2 separate regions of the Homo sapiens genome follow, and region 1 is linked to region 2. The links come from fine-mapping of genetic effects on gene expression. Tissue or cell type: whole blood. Region 2 holds a variant in brackets; the other region holds the start of a gene. All regions are shown on one strand. Distances are from middle to middle. Region 1 holds the start of ATP2C1 (ATPase secretory pathway Ca2+ transporting 1). Region 2 overlaps LOC107986023 (a long non-coding RNA gene).

What was found. PIP is the estimated chance that this variant, and not a neighbour inherited with it, causes the effect.
Region 1: it holds the start of ATP2C1, and the variant in region 2 is fine-mapped to the expression of ATP2C1 in whole blood (INTERVAL, PIP 0.98).

The regions. Positions count from the first base shown.
Region 1 is chr3:130,889,704-130,898,041 of GRCh38, reverse strand. ATP2C1 (ATPase secretory pathway Ca2+ transporting 1) reads right to left here and starts at 3,958. Exons shown (of 28, transcript NM_001378687.1): 1 at 3,705-3,958; 2 at 3,267-3,452. The coding sequence starts at 3,272. LOC107986023 (a long non-coding RNA gene) reads left to right here and starts at 4,121. Exons shown (of 3, transcript XR_001740492.2): 1 at 4,121-5,186. RefSeq lists a silencer at 3,704-4,093 and an enhancer at 4,184-4,403.
Region 2 is chr3:130,867,908-130,876,245 of GRCh38, reverse strand. The region is part of intron 1 of LOC107986023 (a long non-coding RNA gene); the gene reads left to right. It also overlaps a transcript of ATP2C1 not described here. Among named protein-coding and RNA genes, the nearest start is that of ATP2C1, 22 kb to the left of the region's middle. RefSeq lists an enhancer at 6,562-7,450. The variant TG/G (reference allele first, on the strand shown) is at 4,223.

The DNA.
Region 1 (8,338 bases), 22 kb before region 2:
CAGCTAGACATATCTTTTCTAGTAAGCTATCACTTTAAACATGCAATTAACTTTTAAAAATCAGGTAAGAGCTGTTTACTTGTGCATCTCAAGATGCCTAAGCGGGATCTGTTTAGATTTGTGATAAACATGTAAAAACAAATTCCAAAGGATCTGGATAAAATCCTAACTCACGACTGAATGTTAAGTAGTCCAAAAATTCCAGGAAATTAACATTTTAAACGTTCCTAGTGACAAGCAGAAAGTGTTCATGAAACATCCTGGAGTCTACAGCTAAAAATTGGTCAAGCTTTGCTGAGAAAGTTTAAATGGGCCCTAGGAAAAAAGTCCAGAAGAATCTAAACCGAAGTGCCAAAGAAAATACCACCATTGCTGAAGGAACCAACACATGGATGAAACCATTTCCTCCCCACACCACTGTAAGCTACCTAAGAAACCTTCATGCTGATGCTCTAGGGAAACACTATCAATTCTACACTGTTCACACCCACAAATGTAACTACCTGCATACCTACTGGAGGATACTCTTACTAGGGAACAGCAGCATCACTCAATTCATCCAAGTTAACTGTATGTCAAACATTGCTCTGGCGGCTTCATTTATTACTCACATCAACTTTGCAAGAGGGCATTATCTCATTTACAGATGAGATAACTTAGAGGCTGAGAAAGCTTAGAAGCCTAGTAACTTGTCAGATTTTTCAGGAGAGGAAAACATTACTTGTCGGGCTTCAAATCCAAACCTGTCTCTTTCTGTACTGGACCCTGGCTTCTTGGTAGAGCCCTAACTTTTTCTGTAGGCTTAAAAGCACTAATGCCATAGAAAATTCCTTACCTAACTCCACTTATCCCTCAACTAACAATGACAACTTCATTTTGAGCATTTGGCTACTACTGTTCCCCCTTCCAACATTTAACTGTCATGACAATATTAATGCCAGGTGGCCTATTAGTATGTATCAAACATTCAGCTAGGCAATTTATAATTAACATTTACCGAGCACTTACTATGTGCCAGATACTGTTTGAATGTTTACAACAACCTCATAAGGTAGGTTCTATCATTATCTTTATTTTATGAAGAAACGGAAGCACAGAAAACTTTAATATGCACAAAGCCAAATGGTAAGCGACGAATCCAGCATTCAAATCAGTCTGCATGGTTCCACCACAACTCAAGCTCTTAAACGTTATCATTCCTACCTCACAAGAGAATTTATACAGGGTTTCTCATTTAATCCTCTCAATTCTGTGAGTTAAAGATTATCAATCCCAATTTATAGATGAAGAAATACAGGCTCAGAAAGGTGACGTAATTTACTTAAAATCACACAGCTTTAAGTGGTTCAAGACAAGTTAGTCAAGACTTGAATCCATTTTTGTTTCACACCTCCAAATTGTTAATACTACACTATATCAAAGAAGGATGAAAACTACAAAAAGGCAAGTGAACAATAAAAAGGCACAGGTATCAATCTATGTAGTTTAATATGGTCAGTCACTTTTGAAAATTTCTAGGCTATATACAGGCTCTTCTTCAAACTGTTTATATATAAAAAAAAATGTGACGATAGGGAGAAACTGACAAAAATGGTCTCTTGATGGTCAAGAATAACGGGACAGAAAACCCCACACGTTTTTAAGAACTGTATAATCTTTTACTATGAAACCACAAAATTCATATTTGGCCACAAAATACAGAGACAGACACAAGTAGGCACCATTCTCCTATCTCACAACCACCCCCTCCCACCTCAGTAGATAATGAGAATCGGCTTTATTACTCATGCTCTTCCTCCTGAGAGATCAAGAAACAAAAGCAACATGAAAGAATCCACCTACTTTAGGCTACCCTCTTAAATCTGGTACCATTCTGAAAACAAGCTCATAAACATACATTAAATGTTAGAAGTTATTTAAGATGTTTCTACCAAGAAACAAGTATATGAATGCATTTAACATTCTTTGTCTCATGTGCAGAATGGATTTGCCTTTCTTAAATCAATAAACTTAAAAGAGAGGAAAAAGGCTCAGAAAAGTGACTTTCCTTATCACCAAAAACATCACTGCTTTCAAATGTTTCTCAAGACCCAATTAGACAGTATAACTCCTCTGCAGTTATACACTTTAGTATTTCAGAAAATGTCTTCCGCCAATTATCCATCCAGAGTAAAATTTGTCAATATAATCATGCCTCTCATCATATTCCCTACATAGCCCAGAGGTCTCAGAGAGCAAAACACATTACTGCATCTATAAGAAACACCCATTTCAAAATTACTAGTCCTAGTCAGACAATCAAGCTTACATTCTCAACAATGGAAAAACAAATTAGAAGCAGCCAGCAAGACTGCAGCTCCTTTATACCAGACACATATTTTTTAAAACAAATTATACCAGAGGAAAAAACTGTCATTTGTTAAGTATCTTTTATAGTATTTTGCAGCCCGGTTAAAGGCAGAAGAAAAAAAAATGATCACGCACAAGTCAGAAGTCAGTCCAAAGAATAAGTGTTGTTTCAGGAGGGGGAAAAAAAATCACTTATTCACAGTTGTTCAACAATTTTAAAAATAATCAGTGCTGTGTAGGAAAAGCATTAAATATTTTAACGAGGCCAAAGGGATCATGTAACATGTGAATGACGATCTAATGTGTCCAAAGTGTACAGTGAACAAACAGGTTCCGCTGTCAGCCTCCTAAATGATGTTTTGAAATAGGGTGGAACTTTAAGAAAAGCACTCATCTCATAACATTTCATTAAATTCACTGGGTTTTTTTTGTGAATTGAAAAATAATGAGTTTTTTCCCCAATGCTAGACATAATAAAACATGGCTTGCTTTCTTATAAATGAATCCTGCCACACACCACATCGAGGCTTGAAACGCCAATATACAGAGATGCAGCCCCATCCCCTTGTCCCCCATTTCCACTTCCCCTCGAGTAATTCCTTTCAAATAGCTATTTAAACATGCACAGACGCTATCTGAAATGAAAACTTCCCTCTCATTCCCTAAGCTGAAGAGAGCAGGAATTCCTCAAGAAAGCTGAATCAAGCTCAGTCACCCACAGAACCTCAATCTCTCAAATGCCCCATGTTACCAAAATAAAAGCTGGATACCCTAAGTAAGCAAATCCTTGGACACTTCACATACACAGTAAATAAATAAGCTCACGAAAATAAAAAGGTGGAAAAACAAAGACAACTTAAAAGCAAACCACCACACCCTCAACTCCGCGTTGCAACCGGTCGGCCAGGGGCCTTTACCTTCATTTTCCATCGAAACTGCACTCGGGTTGATGGCTACAAAGTCTTTAGTGTCAGCCACGGCCACACTGGGAATAGAGAGGAGAGGAGGAGGACAAGGAAGAGAAGCCCCCGGAATCCCAGGCTGTCACCCCCGCTCCCGGCCACGCGTCCCACGGCTGCTCCCACCACCCCTAGCAGCAGCATCTGCAAGAGAAACCAGGAGAAGCGGCGCTGACGAGAGGCTGAGGAAGGAGTTCCCCGCCCAGCCACTATCTCGGGAGCCCCCCTCCCCAAGATCCCGCACCCGCCCCGTCGTGTGCCCGCAACGTCCCCAGCTCACGCCAGCGGGGCGGCGCCCTAGAGATGCCCCCCCATCCAGGGGATACCCGAACCTCCCCTTCCTTCAGAACCTGGAAGTTTCTAGAAATGGGGGCAGGAGGTAATACTGGTACCCACCCAAAGCCCCGGACAGCCCTCCTCCAGGCTGCGGGGTCTCAGCCGCGGGGCTCGCGGGGGCGCCCCGCGCGCCTCGGGAGAAGAGGAGCTGCTCGCGGGGCAGCGGTGCGAGGCGGGAGCCTGCTCCCGGCGTGAGAAGAAGCGAGCGGGAGGGAGGAAGGGAGGGAGAGAGGGCGGGCGGGGAGGGGAGAGAAGAGGAGGTGAGGGGACCCGTCACGGTCCGCCGGGCCGGCTCCGCGAGGCCGTGCTGGTCTGCTCCCGCCTCCGACTCCTGCGCTCCGCCCCTCCCCGCCGCCGGCCGCCCAGTCGCGCCCCGCACTCCTGGGCCAGCCGCGAACCCAGCTTTGTCACTATTACTTCCGCTGAGAGAGGTGCGCGCAGGCGCATTCGTGTTCACGGGCTGGGAAGGCGGAAGTGAAGTGAAGGCCGAGACTTCGGCCCGGAATGGACAATGTTTGGGTTTGGATCCGTCCGGTAGGAGGTCGCTCGGGGTTGGTGGCCCGCCTTGTTCTTGCTGGCGCCTCCCTTACCCCAGGGACGGTGTCCGCCCGTTTATATGCACCCCCTGAACGCGAGGGTCGGAGATTCGCCCACGCCCCGTGTCGGCCACGCATTCCCGTGGGGCGGCCGCGGGGTCGGCCCAAGCTGAGAGTCATGGCCGCTGTCCCCGAGGCGTTTAAGCGCTCTCTACAAAGTCTGTAGGGGAAGCTGCTCCCGTCGGGGTGGCAGTCACAATCTCAGCAGGCAACGTTGAGGCCCACGGAAGGAAGGGGCGAGGTGTCCATGCTCCTGCCAGGGACTGGAGCACCGTGAGCAGCCTCCCGAGTCTCGCACTCTCACTTGCAAAACCCTGCACTGACTGCTTGGTTCTTGGGGGAGCCGGTAATCGCGGGGCGACTTCCCAAAATTCTTTAAGGGGTGTGCTTAGTTACCATGTGTAATGAGAGAGCAAGGTTCAGCCTCAGAGAGCTCCAGGGAGAGCTAATCTTTTTCATTCGTTTGTGGTATATGGAACTGGGGAGAGGCTGGAACAGCAATTAGAAACCAGTCGTACAGCTGTCGAAGCCAATGAACGAGCACTTCTTTTAGCAGCTGTACCTTTGTCCAGTGTCAATGCCTTTTCACACGTAAACATTTCACTTGCTCGGCATCTTACCCAGACCCCTAATAAGTGCTTTTTAATGAACGATTGGTTTTAATAAACCGTGGTGAGCCAGACATATAATGTTGAACAGAAGTCCTCTCACACCCATAACCACTAGAGGGCAGGGCTTCACCTACTGAGTTGGTGATCATCCTACAGAGAACTCAAAAGAAAATTTCCGTATATGCTAGATGTGTTTTTCTCCATCAACACTTAGACACTTTACAAATTTGCTTTTTATCTCAGGTCCTGTAACATATCGCAGTGTGCTCTCTAACCACACGTTCAACATCAGAATTAACGGACGGGGTTGCCTGTGTTTCTATATTTGTTCCCAAGTAAGTGGTACTAGACTAGGATTGAAAATTCTGGACAGCTTTCTAGATTTACCTTTCTTTTAAGAAATATTGAACTTTTATTCAGCGAGGTCACTTTTAAAGATGAACCCATAAAAATCACTATCAAGTAGATTTCTAGTCTTAACGAGTTAACTATGATCCACCTCTGGCATGCATGGTCAGTGATTTTTGTCTGCACAATGACGGAGCCAAATTAACGGACGGGGTTGCCTGTGCTTCTATATTTGTTCCCAAGTAAGTGGTACTAGACTAGGATCGAAAATTCTGGACGGTTTTTAGATTTACCTTTCTTTTAAGAAATATTGAACTTTTATTCAGCGAGGTCACTTTTAAAGATGAACCCATAAAAATATCAAGTAGATTTCTAGTCTTAGGAGTTACTATTTATGATCCACCTCTGGCATGCATGGTCAGTGATTTTTGTCTACACAATGACATAGCCTGTGATTTGTACAATGATTGTGATCTCTCGTAATCAATTTGTAACAGTTATTACTGTACATATTCGACCTTGAAACAGCATTATATTAAAAACAAAAGCACCTAAGGTAGGAAATTACACAATATAAATACTTTGATATTAACATATGCATTTACAAAATAGAGGGTAACTGTACAGAATTTGGTATTGGGTCACTTTAGCTGAAACATTTTTCTAAAGCAACTTTTCAGAACTATCTGTTGTATTAATATACTGCAATACTCTAGCATTAACACTGAATCTATAACTCCTCCAAAAGATTTATAGCTCCATGGTTTATTCCTAAAATGACTTAAACTGAAATTTTACTTTTGGTCCCCTAAATTATGAAAATCATTGTTCCTATTACTAAGCCAAAAAAGAAACTGGTAAGATCAAGATCAACTTTACCAAGAAGAATTGACCAATTAGTCATTTTATATAAAAAACTTAAGCATCTGGAAATTTTGGTGTCTGAGGGGGTTCTGGAACCGATCCCCTGTGGACAATGAGGGATGACTATATACATATATATGTCATACACACACATATGTATATGTATAGACAAACATATACACATATATATGTATATTCATACACCCACATATACATACACACTAGCCTTCTTTCAAAAGATTTTTGTAAGAATCTCATAAAGTAAGTGAACACAGGTTGCAAATTATAAGCACTATAGAAGTATAAGATTATTATAGAGAGAATCAAGGAAATCCCTGGAGTGTTAGCTAGCTACAATGGGATTGATGGCAATGAAACATATTATTTCCAAGTTTCAGCTTATTGCTTCCATAGAAATCAAAGCTCTAAAAATTCTTTCTACTCTCCTTTTGTCCTGAATATTTAACCTACAAAATTAAATGCATCTGATGCAAAAAGTGGTCACGTGCAAGAAAGGGAAATTTGTCAGGCTTTTCCGCTTGGGGGAAATATTACAAATGGGAAAGATTGAAGAAGAATGGTCATGACATTCTAATTTTCTTTATACTGTGCTTTATTCCACAAAGGGTGTGCGGTATCTTGTTTTTAATATCAAATTTGATAGCTGCATTTTTATAAACCTGGATGGTACAAGAATATGTGGTTCTTTAGGGATTTAAAAATTAAAACTTGGAAAAAATTATTTTAAAATCTTTCCTCAATTAATTAATGTCTTCTTTTAAAGGCTGTTTTAATGTTGTTTAAAGTACCAGAGGTTAATAGTTAAGAAATTTCACCTAGCTGCTAGAAAAGAAATTGTAATTTTATTTTAAGTTGAACATTTTATTTATTTACTTACTAACTTAAGAGACAGAGTCTCTGTCGCTGAGGCTGGAGTGCAATGATGCCATCATAGCACACTGCAGTCTTGAACTCCTAGGCTCAAGAGATCCTCTTGCCTCGGCCTACCAATGTGCTTGGGATTAGAGGCATGAACCACCATGCCTGGCAAAGTTGGACACGTTAAAAACATATAAAGATGCATCACTTTATTTTTATAAGCTAACCTACTCCAACAGAACAACAGAAGTATTTTTCTTCTTATAAGATAAAGGACATGCTAAATGTCAAGTTTAGAAAACTATAGTTTTATTGCCAAGAGTGTTGTACGAAATCAGTTCCTAACAAACATCTACCAGAATTGCTATAAATCTGCCTAGTTCCATGTTTTGGCAGTGCTGGAAGATTAAAAGTTGGAAGCAAGAATAAAAATTGAAGGACTCATATGAGCTACTTGTGTTTGGTTGGTTTTAATAGCACCCAGATCCAGATCCCCAAGTACTCTACAAATATTTTATCACTCACAAAATTCCATAGCCTCTTTCACACTTGCTAGCATTTTAAACATGAAATATTTGATGAAACTGAGATGAAATGAGAGAACTTATACTCTTAATTTTTATTGTTAAAGAAGTTTATTTCAAGTATGACATAGTCTCTCCATTCATTGGCTCAGATTCTGAGCCAGTGGTAATATTTGGGATCTTATATACTACCAGTCTTCTGGATTAGACATGAGTGTCGATGGGATGCATGTGAAAATAAGAAAGAGGTAAGAGCAAAGTGAGTGTGAGTCCCATGACCCAAGAGTACCATGACCAATGAACTTCATCATTTCCATGGAAAACAGACATACAATATTCCAAATTATATAAACTACAGGATTTGTTTTGAGATACAAAGGTATCCATTTAAATGATAATATTCCACCTAGTTTCCAAACTAGCATAATTCACCTCTGGCCCCAAAACATTTGACAGCAGTAAATATGTAATAAAGACCTATTAAATAAATGGATAGCCTGAAAAATGTTTATCATAAATATTTTTTGTTGAATGAATAACAATCTACTTGTTTCCTATGATCAAACTAAAATCCAAGCTCCTACTTTCCTGTAAAACCAAGAGGACTTAAGGGATTTTTAAGAAGTTTAAGGGTTTCTGGTGCATCTCACACCTGTAATCCCAACATTTTGGGAGGCTGAGGCAGGAAAATTGTGTGAGCCCAGGAGTTCAAGACCAGGCTTGACCACATAGTGAGATCCTGTCTTTACAGAAAATAAAAGCATTAGCTGGGTGCAGTGGCACACACCTGTGGTCCCTGATACTCAGGCAGCTGGGGTGGGAAGATTGCTTAAGCCCAGGAGGTCAAAGCTGCAGTGAGCTGTAATCATGCC
Region 2 (8,338 bases):
AACTACTAGAAGAAAACAGGGAAAATGCTTCTGGACATTGGTCTAGGAAAAAATTTTATGGGTAAGACTTCAAGAGTACAGGGAACAAAAATAAAAATAGACAAGTGGTACTATATCAAACTAAAAGCCTCTGCACAACAAAGAGTATCATCAACAAAATGAAGAGACAACCTGTAGAATGGAAATAAATATTTGCAAACTATTTACCTGACAAAATATCCAGGATATACAAGGAACTGAAAAAAACCAACAGCTCAAAAAATAACTCCAAAAAAAACTCAAATATTTTGATTTAAAAATGGGCAAATGATCTAAAGACACTTCTCAAAGCAAATGGCCAACAAGTACATAAAAAAAAAAAACACTCGACATCACTAATCATCAGAGAAATGCAAATCAAAACCACGATGAGATATCACCTCACACTTGTTAGAATGACTATTGTCAAAAAGACAAAAACTAACAAATGCCAGTGAGGATACAGAAGAAGGGAAACTCATACAGTATTAGTGTGATTGTAAATTTGTACAGCCGTTATGGAAAACAGTATGGAGGTTCCTCAAAAAACTAAAAATAGAACTATCATGTGATTCAGCACTACCGGGTACCTATCCAAAGAAAAGCAAATCAGTATATTGAAGAGGTATCTACACCCCCATGTTTATTGTAGCATTATCCACAATAGCCAAGATAATGGAATCAAACTACAAGTCCATCAACAGATGACTGGATAGAGAAAATGTGGTATATATACACAATAGAAAACGATTCAGTTATAAATAAGAATTAAGTCCTGTCATTCATGGCAACATGGATGAACCTGGAGGATGTTATGTTAAGTGAAATAAATAAGGCACAAAAAGATAAATAACACATGTTCACACCCATACATGAGCTCAAAAGTTGAACTCATAGAAGTAAATAGTAGAATAGTGGTTACTAGAGGCTGGTAAATGTAGTTGGAGGGGAGGAATAGGGAGAGGTTGGTTAATGGATACAAAATTACAGCTAGATAGGAGAAATACATTACAGTGTTTTATAGCACTGTGGGATGAGTATAGTTAACAACAATTTACTGCATATTTTTAAAAAACTGGAAGAGAGGATTTGGAATGTTCCCAACAAAAAGAAATCATAAATTTTTGAGGTGAGGGATATGCTAATTGCCCTTACTTGATGATTACACATAGTACAGATGTATCAAAATATCATTCTGTGTTGCATAAATAAATACAACTATTACATGTGAACTAAAAAGAAAAGAAAAAATCCATTCGTTTCCAAGATCATTAGTCTAAGTTAATATTTCTCAGTGTGGCTTTACTATGAGCAGCATCAGCATCACCTGGGAATTTATTAGAAATGCAAATTCTCACACTCCGGCGAGTCCTACTGAATCAAATTCTGGGGATTAGATGCAGCAGTCTGATTTAGCAAGACTTTTCAATGATTCTGAATGCTTGGAAGTACAGCAGCCACCTTTTTATCCCTCCTTCTACCCTTCCCCTGAGAAAAGACAATACTAAGAATGGCAAAGTAGTGACTCGAAGAAGCCAAGTCCTTTAATACATAATTAAGCTAACAAATAAACCAACTCTGGGGCCTGCCCTACCACTAGACTTCCTCTAATGTGAGATAATAAATGAACTACATTTTCTGTTACATACAATCAGAAGAATCTTAATTGATAGATTAAATGAGAGGAAAAAATTTAGTTTAGATTAATAGGTTAAAATGTTGGTTGATGATTGTTCCTATAAAAGTGAAGAGTATAATACAATATGAATTATTCAAATGATAAAATGTTACGACAAGTACTTAAAATGTTAAAGGCGATGTTAATCAATAGGAAGTTACAGAATAAGATGTCCAAAAACTGAATAAGAAGTGTGTCTGTTTTTTAAGTTAAATAATTGCCATATTAGCAGATAAAGTTAAAAATTGGCTATTGACTTCAGAAATTCCATTGACAAGTTTTCCTTATCACTCATTAGAAATATTTTAAAATTATATAACTGACTGTATTTTATTCTTAAACATTGATGATCTTTTAGAATTTTTACTTATATAGTTGCATGCCCTGGGCACTAGATTTTTTTCTTATCTTTTCTTTTTCTTTTTTTCTTTTTTTTTTTTGAGACAGAGTCTCGTTCTGTCACCCAGGCAGGAGTGCAGTGGTGTAATCTCAGCTCACTGCAACCTCTGCCTCCTGGGTTCAAGCGATTCTCCTGCCTCAGCCTTCTGAGTAGCTGGGATTACAGGCACCCGCCACCATGCCGGGCTAATTTTTGTATTTTTAGTAGAGACGGGGTTTCACCATGTTGGTCAGGCTGGTCTAGAACTCCTGACCTTGTGATCTGCCCACCTCAGCCTTTCAAAGTGCTGGGATTACAGGGGTGAGCCACGGTGCCTGGCTAGATTTTTTTTCTTTAACTAATGATTACTTAGTGACAGATTCGACTATGGAATTGCTAAAATGAAACTAAATTTACACTTACTTAAAGTATACTATAGTCTTTTCTTTTTCCCAAAAGCTAGGCAAAAATATTTATTATTTTGTGGTTTGCACATCAACTTGTTTCTATTAGCAGACACAATTAGAACAGTTAAAAAGCTATGACATTTGAGTTTTTAAAAAACTTATATTTTTTCCTCATTTAAATGACAAAAATGTTATTTTAACCCTGGAAAAGTACAAAAGTACTTGGAAAGGTAAAGATGTCAACATTACACATTTGATTAAAACGTTTAAATTACTTTTAGGGAAGTGAGAATCAATTCTCACTGAACAGACACCAAAAGTACATATTTGTATATAATTAAATTTAATGCTCAAAACATTGCGAAGTAAGCAGACTAGATTTCATTAATTGCTTCTTAAAGGTGATGAAGATGAGACTCATACAAAGGAAGCTCCCTGCTCAAGAATTTCTCAGTGTTTAATGTCAAAGTTAGCAGTCTAATACCCATCTTGGCTTGGGTATCCCTCCATCCCTCAATGTTTCCACAATGCCTTATTGGAGAATATATAAGAAGCTGCTCTGTTTATTTAGTTACCTTTTGTAGTTTATCATTTTGTTTGTTAAATTCTTGCCTCTTTCAATTCAGTGTGGCCCCCTTTAACTTTAATAGTGCCTAATTTCTGAGTGTAGGATATATGCCCCATAGCTAATTTGATGACACTCAAGATTGTATTAATTAATAAGGTAACTGTCTTTCTTAGTCACTCTTAGTCAATATCTACATCTATTCACTTGTTTTTATTCAACCTTCAGATACCATTACTGGAGAAATTATTCTCCAAGCAGACCCTCTTCTAGAATCCCTTGGGTTTATCTTCTCAGAGTTGAAAAGTACTGCTCAAGCTGGGCGCAGTGGCTCACACCTGTAATCCCAGCACTTTGGGAGGCCGAGGCAGGTAGATCACAAGGTCAGGAGTTCAAGACTAGCCTGGCCAAAATGGTGAAACTCCGTCTCTACTAAATATACAAAAATTAGCCAGGTGTGGTGGTAGGTGCCCGTAATCACAGCTACTCGGGAGGCTAAGGCAGGAGAATCGCTTGAACCCAGGAGGCGGAGGTTGCAGTGAGCCGATTTCGTGCCACTGCACTCCAGCTTGGGTGACAGAGTAAGACCCCATCTTTAAAAAAAAAAAAAAGAAAAGAAAAGTACTCCTCAAATGGGAGTGTAGTCTCATGAATAATAATCACAGATAGGCATAGTACTGGTAAAATGGGAGTGTAATCTCATGAATAATAATCACAGATAGGCATTTTAGAGACATTATTCAATAGGTAATTGAGACATGTTAATTAACATGATCTATTGAAAAATCAACAGAATACATATTAAACATATGTCCTAAACCTAAAAGCCACTAAGTAGTATTAAGAATACTGATTTCATCTTTCCAGTTAAATTTTTGTTATTCAGAGTCTTTATAATTATGTTTAAACAATAAGCAGAGTAAGGGCTAGGGAAAAAATGAGGGTTTTATTCTTTGTTTCTTTTAATTAAGACCTCATAATGGCTTTAGAAAGTATGCAGGACCTAACAAGGATTATATCTTTTTGTATATTCCATGATTTAAATCAACAATTGAAATTCTCAGTTGCTACATCACTTTAATCAGCTATCGAAGATGATATAAACATAAGAACATATTTTAGATTATATTCTTAGGGCCAAGACATTGCTTAAAGATTTTTTTTTTTTTTTTTTT[TG/G]AGACAGAGTTTCACTCCTGTTGCCCAGGCTGGAATGCAGTGGCATGATCTCCGCTCACTGCAACCTCTGCCTCCCAGGTTCAAGCAATTCTCCAGCCCCAGCCTCCAGAGTAACAGGGGTTATAGGCACGCGCCAGCACGCCTGGCTAATTTTTGTACTTTTTAATAGAGATGGGGTTTCACCACATTGGCCAGGCTGGTCTGGAACTCCTTACTTCAGCTGATCCGCCGGCCTCTGCCTCCCAAAGTTTGGGATTATAGGGGTGAGCCACCGCCCCTGGCCTAAAGATTTCTTACTAAGCATTAAGTAACACTAGGCATCAGCCAAGGTGAATGAAAATGGTCAATTAAGAACCTGTGAAACTCTAAGTCATCATTAGTATCCCTCTGGCTTTGACAATGACTTACCATCTTCTAAGCAGCATACATGCTATTCTTGAGTAGGTATGACAAGCCCTGTCAGCTTTGATTTTGGAAATATACATCATCAAATGATCTGCAACAGTGGTTCTGAAAGTGTGGTCCCTCCCACCTGGAATTTTTTTAGAAATGCAGACTCTTGGGCCCCACCTCAGTCCTACTGTATTAGAAACTCTGGAGGTGGGGCCCAGCATTCTGTTTTAATTAGTCCTTTAGGTGATTCCAATGCATGCTAAAGTTTCAGCACTGTTTACAAGAAGCATTAAGCTTTCATCTAAAAATATTTTGATCATGCCAATAGTACTCAATTCTAAGAGTGAATAAGAATGTACAGGGATAACTCAGAGATATTGTGAGCTTGGTTTGAGACCACCACAATAAAGCAAATATCACAATACAGAAAGTCACACAAATTTTTTGGTTTCCCAGTGCATACAAAATTTATGTTTACACTGTATTGTAGTCTATTAAGTATTCAATAGCAAGTCTAAAAAAATGTATATACCTTAGTTAAAAAATACTTTATTGCTAAAGAATGTTAATGATCATCTGAACCATCAATGAGTCATAATATTTTGGCTGGTAGGGGATCTCGCCTTGACGTTAATGGCTATTGACTGATCAGGGCGGTGGTTGCTGAAAGTTGAAGTGGCGGTGGCAATTTCCTAAAATAAAACAATAATAAAGTTTGGTGCATCAATTGACTCTTCCTTGCACAAATGATTTCTCTGTATTGTCTGATGCTGTTTAGTAGCATAGTAGAACCTCTTTCAAAATTGGAGTCAGTCCTCTCAAACCCTGCCACTGCTTTATCACCTCAGTTTATAAAATACTCTAAATCCTTTGTCATCATTTCAACAATGTTCACAGCATATCTACCCAGCAATAGGTTCTATCATAAGAAAACATTTTCTGTGTTTTCTTATGAGGAAGCAATTCCTCATCTGTTCAACGTTTATCATGAAATTGCAGCAATTCAGTAACATCTTCAGGATCCACTTCTAGTTATCTTGCCCTTTCTACCACATCTGTACTTACTTCCTCCACTGAAGTCTTGAATCCCTCAAAGTCATCCATGAGGGTTGGAATCAACTTCTTCTAAACTCCTGTTAATGTTGACACTTTGTCCTCCTTTCATGAATCACAAATGTTTTTAGTGACACCTAGAATGGTGAATCCTCTCTGGAAAGTTTTCAGTTTACTTTGCCCAGATCCATCAGAGGAATCACTATCTATGGTAGCTATAGCCTTATGAAATGTGTTTCTTAAATAATAAGACTTGAAAGTTAAAATTCTTCCTTGATCCATGGACTGCAGAACAGACAGCAGACATGAAAACATTATTCTCCTTTTACCTCATGTCAGAGCTCTTGGGTGACTAGCTGCACTGTGAAGAGCAGTAATATTTTGAAAGGAATCTATTTTTTTTTTTGAGGTCTCAACAGTGGGCTTAAAATATTCAGTAAGCCATGCTATAAATGGATCTGCTGTCCTACAGGCTCTGTTGTTCCATTGATAGAGCACAAGCAAAGTAGATTTAGCATCATTCTTTAGGGACCTAGAATTTTCAGAATGATAAATCATCATTGGCTTCAACTTAAAGTCAACAGCTGTACTGGTTCCAAACAAGAAAGTCAGCCTGTGGCTTTTTATCCACATTGAAAATCTATTATTTAGTATAGCCACCTTCATCAATGATCTTAGCTAGGTCTTCTGGATTACTTGCTGCCACTTCTCCATCACTCCTTGCTGCTTCACCTTGTACTTTTATGTTATGGAGATTGCTTCTTTCCTTAAACCTCAAGAACCAACCTCTGCTATATTCAAACTTTTCTTCTGCAGCTAACCCTCCTCTCTCAACCTTCACAGAATTCAAGAGAGTTAGAGACTTACTCTGAATTAGACTTTGGCCTAAAGGAATGGTATGCCTGGTTTGGTCTTGTATCCAGACCGCTCAAACTTCCTGCACATTAGCAAAAATACTGTTTAGCTTTCTTATCATTTGTGTGTTCACTGGAGTAGCACTTTTAATTTCCTTCAAGAATTTTCCTTTGTATTGACAACTTGGCTAACTGATGCATGAGGCCTAGCTTTCAGCCTACCTCAGCTTTCAACATGCTTCCTCATTAAGCTTAATCATTTCTTTTTTTTTTTTTTTTTTTTTTTTTTTTTTATTTTTTATTGATCATTCTTGGGTGTTTCTCGCAGAGGGGGATTTGGCAGGGTCATAGGACAATAGTGGAGGGAAGGTCAGCAGATAAACAAGTGAACAAAGGTCTCTGATTTTCCTAGGCAGAGGACCCTGCGGCCTTCCGCAGTGTTTGTGTCCCTGGGTACTTAAGATTAGGGAGTGGTGATGACTCTTAACGAGCATGCTGCCTTCAAGCATCTGTTTAACAAAGCACATCTTGCACCGCCCTTAATCCATTTAACCCTGAGTGGACACAGCACATGTTTCAGAGAGCACAGGGTTGGGGATAAGGTCACAGATCAACAGGATCCCAAGGCAGAAGAATTTTTCTTAGTACAGAACAAAATGAAAAGTCTCCCATGTCTACTTCTATCCATACAGACCCGGCAACCATGCGATTTCTCAATTTTTTCCCCACCCTTCCCGCCTTTCTATTCCACAAAACCGCCATTGTCATCATGGCCCATCCCCAATGAGCCGCTGGGCACACCTCCCAGACGGGGTGGTGGCCGGGCAGAGGGGCTCCTCACTTCCCAGTAGGGGCGGCGGGGCAGAAGCGCCCCTCACCTCCCGGATGGGGCGGCTGGCCGGGCGGGGGGCTGACCCCCCCACCACTCTCCCGGACGGGGCGGCTGGCCAGGCAGAGGGGCTCCTCACTTCCCAGTAGGGGCGGCCGGGCAGAGGCGCCCCTCACCTCCTGGATAGGGCGGCTGGCCGGGCGGGGGGCTGTCCCCCCCCACCTCCCTCCCGGACGGGGCGGCTGGCCGGGCAGAGGGGTCCTCACTTCCCAGTAGGGGCGGCCGGGCAGAGGCGCCCCTCACCTCCCGGACGGGGCGGCTGGCCAGGCGGGGGGCTGACCCCCCACCTCCCTCCCGGGCGGGGCGGCTGGCCGGGCAGAGGGGCTCCTCACTTCCCAGTAGGGGCGGCCGGGCAGAGGCGCCCCTCACCTCCCGGACGGGGCGGCTGGCCAGGCGGGGGGCTGACCCCCCACCTCCCTCCCGGACTGGGCGGCTGGCCAGGCCGGGGGCTGACCCCCCCACCTCCCTCCTGGACGGGGCGACTGGCCGGGCAGAGGGGCTCCTCACTTCCCAGTAGGGGCGGCCAGGCAGAGGAGCCCCTCACCTCCCGGACAGGGCAGCTGGCCGGGCGGGGGGCTGACCCCCCCACCTCCCTCCCGGATGGGGCGGCTGGCCGGGCAGAGGGGTCCTCACTTCCCAGTAGGGGCGGCCGGGCAGAGGAGCCCCTCACCTCCCGGCCGGGGCGGCTGGCCGGGCGGGGGGCTGAGCCCCCCCACCTCCCTCCGGGACGGGGTGGCTGCCGGGCGGAGACGCTCCTCACTTCCCAGACGGGGTGGTTGCCGGACGGAGGGGCTCCTCACTTCTCAGACGGGGCGGTTGCCAGGCAGAGGGTTTCCTCACTTCTCAGACGGAGCGGCCGGGCAGAGACGCTCCTCACATCCCAGACAGGGCGGCAGGGCAGAGGTGCTCCCCACATCTCAGACGAT